2 linked regions of the Homo sapiens genome follow. The protein of the gene in region 1 interacts with the protein of each later gene in a pairwise test. Each region holds a gene or a part of one and is shown on either strand. Other genes may lie near its edges.

Region 1 (3,820 bases):
CCCTGCAGAAGGACGGGAGAGGCTGGCTCCTTGCCAGATATGGGATCCAAGCTGCCTGCCCACTCACTGGTGACCTCTATCTGGGCTTCTGTCCCGGCCTCCCCCAGGGACTCAGTCACCCCAGCTATCACCCTATTCATGTGCAAAGAGCTGGTGTCCTTGCCCATCCCTTTCTCAGGATCCCCAATGAACTGACCCTCTGTACCCAGAACCACAGGGCCGTCACATCCTGAGCCCTCTGCCCATGGGAGCCACACATCTCCCATCGTGGCTACCACAGAACGGGCCCCGGAGAGGATTTCTGGAGGCGATTCCTTGGGGCTGTCCCCTTCTGGGCTGGAGGGTGTGACAGAGAGCCCCTCTTCACCCTCCCCTTCATCATCAGGGTCTTCGGTGTCCTTGATGAGCTCCACGCCACGCCCCAGCCGGGCATAGTGCAGCGTGATCTCCTCAGCCAGGGCGCTGTTCAGGGCCCGCTCAGGGCCAGGCCACTTCAAGATCAGGTCGCGGTCCGTCAGTATGCCCAGGGGATGGCTGGGGGACATCCCTCCATCTGTGGAGCCCTCCCCACCACCCCCTGCCCCACCCGCAGCCACAGCAGCCCGTAGGCGGCTCAGGTGAGACAGGTAGAGCTGCTCCAGCTCCTGGTCGATGGTGTCCTCACCGAGCAGCTCCTCTGACCCACTCACAGCCTCCAGCCCCCCTCCATTCTCACTCGATACTCCCCATGTGGCCTCTGCCTGCTGCTGACTGGGCTCCAGGAAAGGCCCGGTGGCCCCCTCGCTCGCATCGGGCCCTGAGGCCTGGTCTCTGGGGGAGCCACCCAGGCCACAGAGAGGGGAGGAGGGGGGAATCCTGATGGCCGGTGCCTGGAGGACCTCTGTAAAAGCCACAGGTGGACTGCTTCTGGGGACATCACCTTCTTCTGCGGGGTTGCCAGTCATCGGAACGTCAGAAACCTGGAGCCATGGCCGGGGCAAGGGGGCAGAGAAAAAGCAAGGGAATGAAGCAGAGGAGGGGATGGAACAAGCAGAGACAGTAAGAAGTGTGACAGCCCACAGCCAGCCCCACAGGGGTTTCTATATAAAAATGCCTTAAAGCGCCCTCTGTCACTGTCTAGACTCCAAAGACTGTCATCTATGGTAAAATAACACAATTGGATGCAGTAAAACAGGGCTTCTTGCAGATTATAAAGCTGAGGAATTCGGTGGGTGTGAATATTTGGTGAATGATCATCACTAAATACTGCTGGCTTACCTTCAAAACAGAGCCAGTTAAAATAACTAAAAGTGTAAGTAGCCAGGCACAGTGGCTCTCACCTGTAATCCAAGCACTTTAGGAAGCCAAGGCGGGCGGATCACATGAAACTAGGAGTTCGAGACCAGCCTGGCCAACATGGTGAAACCCCGTCTCTACCAAAAATACAAAAATTAGCTGGGCGTGGTGTTGTGCGCCTGTAATCTCAAGAGGCTGAGGCAGGAGAATCACTTGAACCCAGAGGGCAGAGATTGCAGTGAGCCGAGACTGTGCCACTGCACTGCAGCCTGGGCGACAGAGACTTTGTCTCAAAAAAAAAAAAATAAAGAGTGTAAGTGGATTGTTTGTAACACACAGGATAAATGCTTGAGGAGATGCATACCTCATTCTCCATGATGTGATTATTACACAATGCATGCCTATATCAAAACATCTCCATAAATATATACACTTACTATGTCCCCTCAAAAATTAAAAATTAAAAAAATTTTAAAAAAAATAAAATGCAAAAAAATCCCAAAACATAGCCAGGATGTCCATATGAACCCATGATGTATCATCTTCTCTTTAAAAAACAATTATTTCCTAGCTCCATCTTTTGAAAGGGCCTAGAAACAATGACCAATCTAGTAGCAGCAAGCATGCCGAGCCCCCAAATCTTGGCCTTTGAATGCCACTCTCCACTGAAAGGAATCAGTGCTCCTTAAAGAAATAGCTGTTTCTGGCCAGGCTCAGTGGCTCACGCCTGTAATCCCAGCACTTTGGGAGGCCAAGGCAGGTGGATCACCAGGCAGGTCAGGAGTTCAAGACCAGCCTGGCCAACATGGTGAAACCCCATCTCTGCAAAAATACAAAAATCAGCCGGGTGTGGTGGCATGTGCCTGTAATCCCAGCTACTCAAGAGGCTGAGACAGGAGAATTGCTTGAACCCAGAAGGCAGAGGTTGCAGTGAACCGAGATTGTGCCACTGCACTCCAGCCTGGGCGACAGAGAAAGACTCTGACTCAAAAAAAAAAAAAAAAAAAAGAAAGAAAAAGAAAAAAGAAAGAAAGAGAGAGAGAGAGGAAAGAAAGGAAAGAAAAATAAAGTAAAAGAAAAGAAAGAAAGAGAGAGACAAAGGAAAGGAAAGAAAGAAAGGAAAGGTAAGGAAAGAAAGGAAAGGAAAGAAAAGAAAGAAAAAGAAAAAGAAAATAAAGAAAAGAAAAGCAAGAAAGAAATGGCTGTTTCCAGGCTTGGGGCAGGGAGAGTACAGGATGAACCTAGCACATATTGTCATGGAAGATGTGAGAAAGGCTCACAGAATGATGAGGGCGTGTCAAAAGGACAGAGTAGCCCATCTCAATAAGCTCCTACTAGCCAGGGATAGTTCAATTTAAGCATCAAAAAAAGCAAACAAATAAGTGCAATGGATTGAAACTCATTCAAATATGTTTAGAATTCATGAGTTCATAATGACACAAAACCAAAAATCCTTTTATTGGTCACCTTTGTAGTAGTACTTCTCTGAAAACTGGTAAATAAAATGGAAAAAATTAAATATTTACACTGCTTTTTCTGCACAAACTATATCTCAAAGTAGCCAAATAGCTGGTGTGGGACAGTTTTTCTTTAGAGAAGAATTCTAGCTAATAAAGGAAGTGGGAATAATAGAATTAAATAGAGTTAATTCTAGTTAATTTAATAATAAAAGATTAAATACATTCGTTTAATACAATTTGATAAATTAAATAAATTTAATAAGATTACATTAATTAATATAATTAATAAATTAATAAAAATGGAGTAAGAAATGTATTTCCACCTGGATGTAATCAGCCAGACCCAGACTGGAAAATTCTACAGGACAAGCAAAGTTTCTTCAACCAACAAATTGCAAAGAAACAAAGTGGGGGAGATTTTAAAAATCTAAAGAGACACATCAATCAAATGCAACATGTCAACTTTGTTTGGATCCTAAACACTTATGAGAGAAGAAAACTTGAACACTGACCAAATACTTGATGATACTGAGGAATTACCGTTTATTTTCTAAGGTGTGATGATAGTATTGTGGGGTTAAGAATTCTTAATTTTCTGGCCAGACGTGATGGCTCACACCTGTAATCCCAGCACTTTGGGAGGCCAAGGCAACGGATCCCGTCTCTACTAAAAATACAAAAATTAGCTGGATGTACTTGCTTGAACCCAGGAGGCAGAGGTTGCAGTAAGCTGAGATCACACCACTGCACTCCAGCCTAGGTGACAGAGTGAGACTCTGTCTCAAAAAAAAAAACAAAAAAGAGTTCTTAATTTTCTGAGATACAAACAGAAGTATTTATGGATGGGATGATGTCTGGATGTCTTCCAAAATAATTCCAGAGGGAATGGGAGGGAGGAGACGGGGTACAGATAAAATAAGAATGAGCACGTGTTGATATTTACTGAAGCTGGGGGATGGTGTACGTAGGTTCATTATACTATTTTACTTTTGTATGTTTGAAACTTTTTGTAATTAAAAAGTTCACACACACACACACACACACACACACACCCTCCAAAATGTCTCTACCTCCCCTACCTACCA
Region 2 (4,604 bases), on another chromosome or scaffold:
AATGAGTGAATGTGAGTGAAAGGATTAATACAGGCAAAATACAACAATGACTGCATTTTTATAATATACTTAATATTTAAAAAATTTTATCTATAAACAAATCAATAAAGGCTTATTTCATACAAGTCTTTTCACTGGATATAAAATGGTGCTGCTATTTTCAATCTGACATTACTTGTTTTGCAGATCCCTACCTGCCTTCATAAGCACAGATGTCAAAGTGTAACTCACAACTAAGCAGTATTTAAAAATAATTTCTTTTCCTCTTTTTTTTTTAATCTTGGAGACAAGATCTCATTCTGTCACCCCAAGCTGGAGCGCAGTGGTGTGATCTCAGCTCACTGCAGCCTCGACCTCCCCCAGGTTCATGCAATCCTCCTGCCTCAGGTCTCCCCTGACCCCTAACCCTCAACCCCTCCGCCGCCGCCCAGTAGCTGGGACTACGGGTGTGAACCACCACCCTTGGCTAATTTATGTGGTTTTTTTTGTAGAGATGGGGTTTTGCCATGTTGCCCAAGCTGGTCTCTTCTAGACTCAAGCAATCCACCTGTCTTGGTCTACCAAAGTGCTGGAATTACAGGAATGAGCCACCGCACCTTGCCTTAAAATATTTTCATATTCCTGAATAGAAATTCTGGTACATTAAAAAACATCTGATTTCTCTTGAATATTATTTCATCTAGAATTCTTCACAAGTATTTTTTCTAATATAGTAAATTTTGAGTTTTTAAAAAAGCAGCAAATACTGAATAAAATCTGAAGTGCTCAGCAGAGCTAAAATGAACTAAGTATTTTCCAATAACATTCAACATGAGCAAAGGAATACAAATTTGAAACAAGAAAAGGGCACAAATGTCATCACTGATTTATAAGTAATTAATTTTAAAATATGCATCTATAATGATCTTTTAAAAGGAAACCTTGAGAATGCTGAGGTTCTAATACTAAGCTAGTCTTATGGTTACAGAAAACTTAAATAGCATAACTATTAAGATTTAAACACCAATTTTCTGAAATAAGGCAAAAACGTATTTTCATTACTTGTATTTTCTCCAACGTAAAGTCTATGGGGAAAAAAAGCTGTGAACCACTCCTAAACCCAGAGATCATCTGTTTAAAAATAAGCAGTAAAAAAGTTTCTGCTAAAACCTATGTATACATGTAGAATTCAGGCCTTTCTGTGCTCTTCTATATAAGGTTGCAACCAGAGCAAATTAATGGTGTTCCACAGCAAAGGCACAAAAGCTAGATAAGAATCTTGTTTCACTGCTAGAAATCAGAACTGTAGAAATCACTATAGGCTTTTAAAACGGCAGAATCTTCAAAGAATGAAACCTCTAAAATAGCTAGATTATATCTTATTTTTTCTCAAATGTGAAAAACAGCTCAGGCTTAACCCCAAACAAAACTATCTGAAGCTAAAATGATCAAGTTTATTACAGTCCCCCCAAATATTAAAGAGAGCTCTTAAAAATATAACTTGAATAAGGGCCATGAACTGGTTCAACATGCTTAACAGTGGTTTTATGAATTACAATGAATGCTGCTACTCTCTAAAAATGAATGTATCAAAGAGGAAATAACCTCCTTGGCATGCTTGCAGCTATACAACGTATTTGTTTCACTGCTTTCAACCGCCTGTGCTGGAGGCTCAGAATAAGTCAATGGGAGGAGGATTTCAGTCACAGCAGCAAGCAAGTCTAGTGAACAGATAAGATGACATGCTCAGCAAAATAACAACGAAACCAGAGGTAAGCATTTAATAAACACATATGGAATTAATCTAAAGGTTTTTTTTTTTAATCTTCAAGAATTCTGCTATCATAATCTTTCATTTCTATTCAGCGGTTTAAAAATCAAAATGAAAAATTTACTAATGCTAAAGGAGAGTTTTTAAAAACGTGATTTGTACATTTGATGAACAAATAAATGGTCTAATCTTCCTTTTGGTTTCCCTTTCTTCTCAAGGCAACTGGGAAGGTTAAAAAAATAAACACTACTTAAAACAAAAAAAGAACTGGTTTGAATTTGGCAAATTTAGTGATTAAATTTAGAACACAATTGTTGCAAAGACATACCATGAGAGATGAAATTACTAAACACAATTATTTGGATCCTAGTAATACCTTTTTTTTTCCTTCTCTCAAACTAAAGGAAATCTAAAATGACATTTATATCAGTACTCACAAACCTGATAAGACAAAGCTAATTACATATAAGGATCCCTAGCTGGTAAAACATTTATTTAGACCCTTGTTGGGCTTTGAGTGTTTCTAGGTGGGTGGCCAGCGCATACTAAAAGTTCTATTCTGAACTATTGTGTTTCGACTTTTCTATTCTTCTGTAAGTAAAGGTAAAAAGACATTCAAGGGTCAGGAAACACCTAACTTTTTATTATAACCATTGAAAAAATTAATGTGTCTTCTGTTTCATTAACTGAGCAACATCAGAAATACAGTATATTTGGAGAATTGGCTGCATTGTCACAAATGCACAACAGACTTACTAAGAAGGGAAGGGCTATGAAGTTCAAGTGTTTTTACCACTTTCAGAAATGAATAAAATAATGCAGTCTATGTATTTTGTATCTAGGGGGAACTCTCTGGCATGCAAGTTCAAACACGACTCTACAACTACGGCAGAAAAAGAGAGAGAGAGAAACTAAAAATATATATATATCCTATTTTTTTCACAGCTATCAGTTTCTTTCACTGAGCTTTCCTAAATTTAAGCCTCTAGAAAATAATAAATACTTGGATATCTTACCTACAAACATGGACAGATGTGTGTATGCGCTCATTTTAGAGAACTTGAATTTTTTTTTTTAAAGGAAGGTGTCAACTTTGGCTTTTGAGTGTTTGGCATGGTTACAATGCCTTAAAAAAACAGATGAGCAGCTTAGCTACTAACCATGCTGACCACTGTTCGGAACGGGATTGAATCACAGAAAAACAGCAAATGGCTCTCTCTTACAGAGTGTCTGAACTTCAAAGCACAATTCCTGAGCACATTTTGCAGAGCACCTTTGTTCACGTTATCTCTTCTAACTGGTCTGGATTACAGACAGAATCAATACCAGAGGAAATGAAACAGATTGTTGAGGAACAGGGAAATAAACTGCACTGGGCAGCTCTTCTGATACTCATGGTGATAATACCCACAATTGGTGGAAATACCCTTGTTATTCTGGCTGTTTCACTGGAGAAGAAGCTGCAGTATGCTACTAATTACTTTCTAATGTCCTTGGCGGTGGCTGATTTGCTGGTTGGATTGTTTGTGATGCCAATTGCCCTCTTGACAATAATGTTTGGTAAGTATTTCACTTTGTTTGTGCCATCAAACCACAGAACTATGATATACTATTAGAGAATGGACACTCATTTAATCTTTACTTTTCTTGAAATAAAAGATGAACTTGGACTATTTAAAGATACGGCAAGTAAACAGTCCCTTGTTTTATATCATTCTCTATGGTTGATCAGCAGTTTTAAAGAGCAAAAAATATTTTTTGTAAACTATTTTTCTCCCTCCTAAGCTATCTAATAAAATCATTTAAAAAGTCATTCAAGTTAGTGATATTTATAGATTCTGAATATATTATCTATAAATTATAGTAAATAGGCCTATACTTTAACTTTTCTACACTGATACTTTTTTTCCTCAAAGCAATAACTAGGACACTTCCGGGACAGATATGCGCTGGGTTAACGATAAGGTCTTTGAATTACTAAATCCCAATTTAAATCACTAAACCCCAGTTTAAAATTGGAACTGTCCAAAAATTCTTATTATAGCTCTTAATAGTTTGTATATTATAAACTTGAACACAATTCCTACATATGTGTCATGTTAAGAAAAATTATGTTTAGTTGCTGAAGGAAATGGTTTGGCTCAGAGTGTCCAAAGAGATGATCTATCGATTCAATTTTTTTATGATATATGGGCATCTGTGTTCCTGATAGGCCTCTAAGTTGGTAAGTGGATTAAAACCTAGTTATTGCGATAATAAAAGGTATAGTTTGACACTGAAATCTTAGTTTGCTATAATAAAAAAAAGATATAAGTAGTTCCAGATTTCTGCATATCATCTCTAGTTATAAAATTTGGATAAACACAAATAATTCTGCTGATGAATTATGAGGGCTCCTAGACCCTTGGAATCAGCATTAAAAGGATATTTAACTTATTCAATGCTTGGTATAAACTGATATTCCATTCATAAACTGCCTAAGCAAAATGATTACTTGTGGCAGATATAGTTTCTTAGAATTATATTTACTTATATGAAGATAAAAATATTTTAAGTTACAGAAGTAAAATTTATTAAACTAGAATCCATATTAGAAGGTAAAAAACCCCTGCTATTCCAACTATTATACCCAGGTTTTACACATTACAATTTTATAAGTAATAACAGAAAGATATCTAAAACTATTATCAGATAGTAACAGGTTTACACCTTCCATTTTAAATCAACATTTACCTGGGCTTTAAAATAAATCAAGAAAATTATGTGGCAGGACAAGCAGTAATGAGTAAAGTTCTACTGCTTTAATTAGACTTTCTAATAATTAACAGTCTTTCTATCTCCCTGTTTTATAAAT

The links.
Region 2: the proteins of PPP1R3F (region 1) and HTR2B interact in a two-hybrid assay, tested with the Homo sapiens proteins (one large-scale study listed by BioGRID and IntAct).

Annotation. Positions count from the first base shown.
Region 1 is NC_000023.11:49,282,973-49,286,792, reverse strand, and holds part of PPP1R3F (protein phosphatase 1 regulatory subunit 3F), read right to left. Parts: intron 960-3,820; coding exon 1-959.
Region 2 is NC_000002.12:231,122,119-231,126,722, reverse strand, and holds the start of HTR2B (5-hydroxytryptamine receptor 2B), read left to right. Parts: upstream 1-1,680; 5' UTR 1,681-1,721; coding exon of another isoform or gene 1,722-1,751; exon of another isoform or gene 1,752-2,592; 5' UTR 2,593-2,958; coding exon 2,959-3,310; intron 3,311-4,604. UniProt on the Homo sapiens protein: G-protein coupled receptor for 5-hydroxytryptamine (serotonin). Also functions as a receptor for various ergot alkaloid derivatives and psychoactive substances.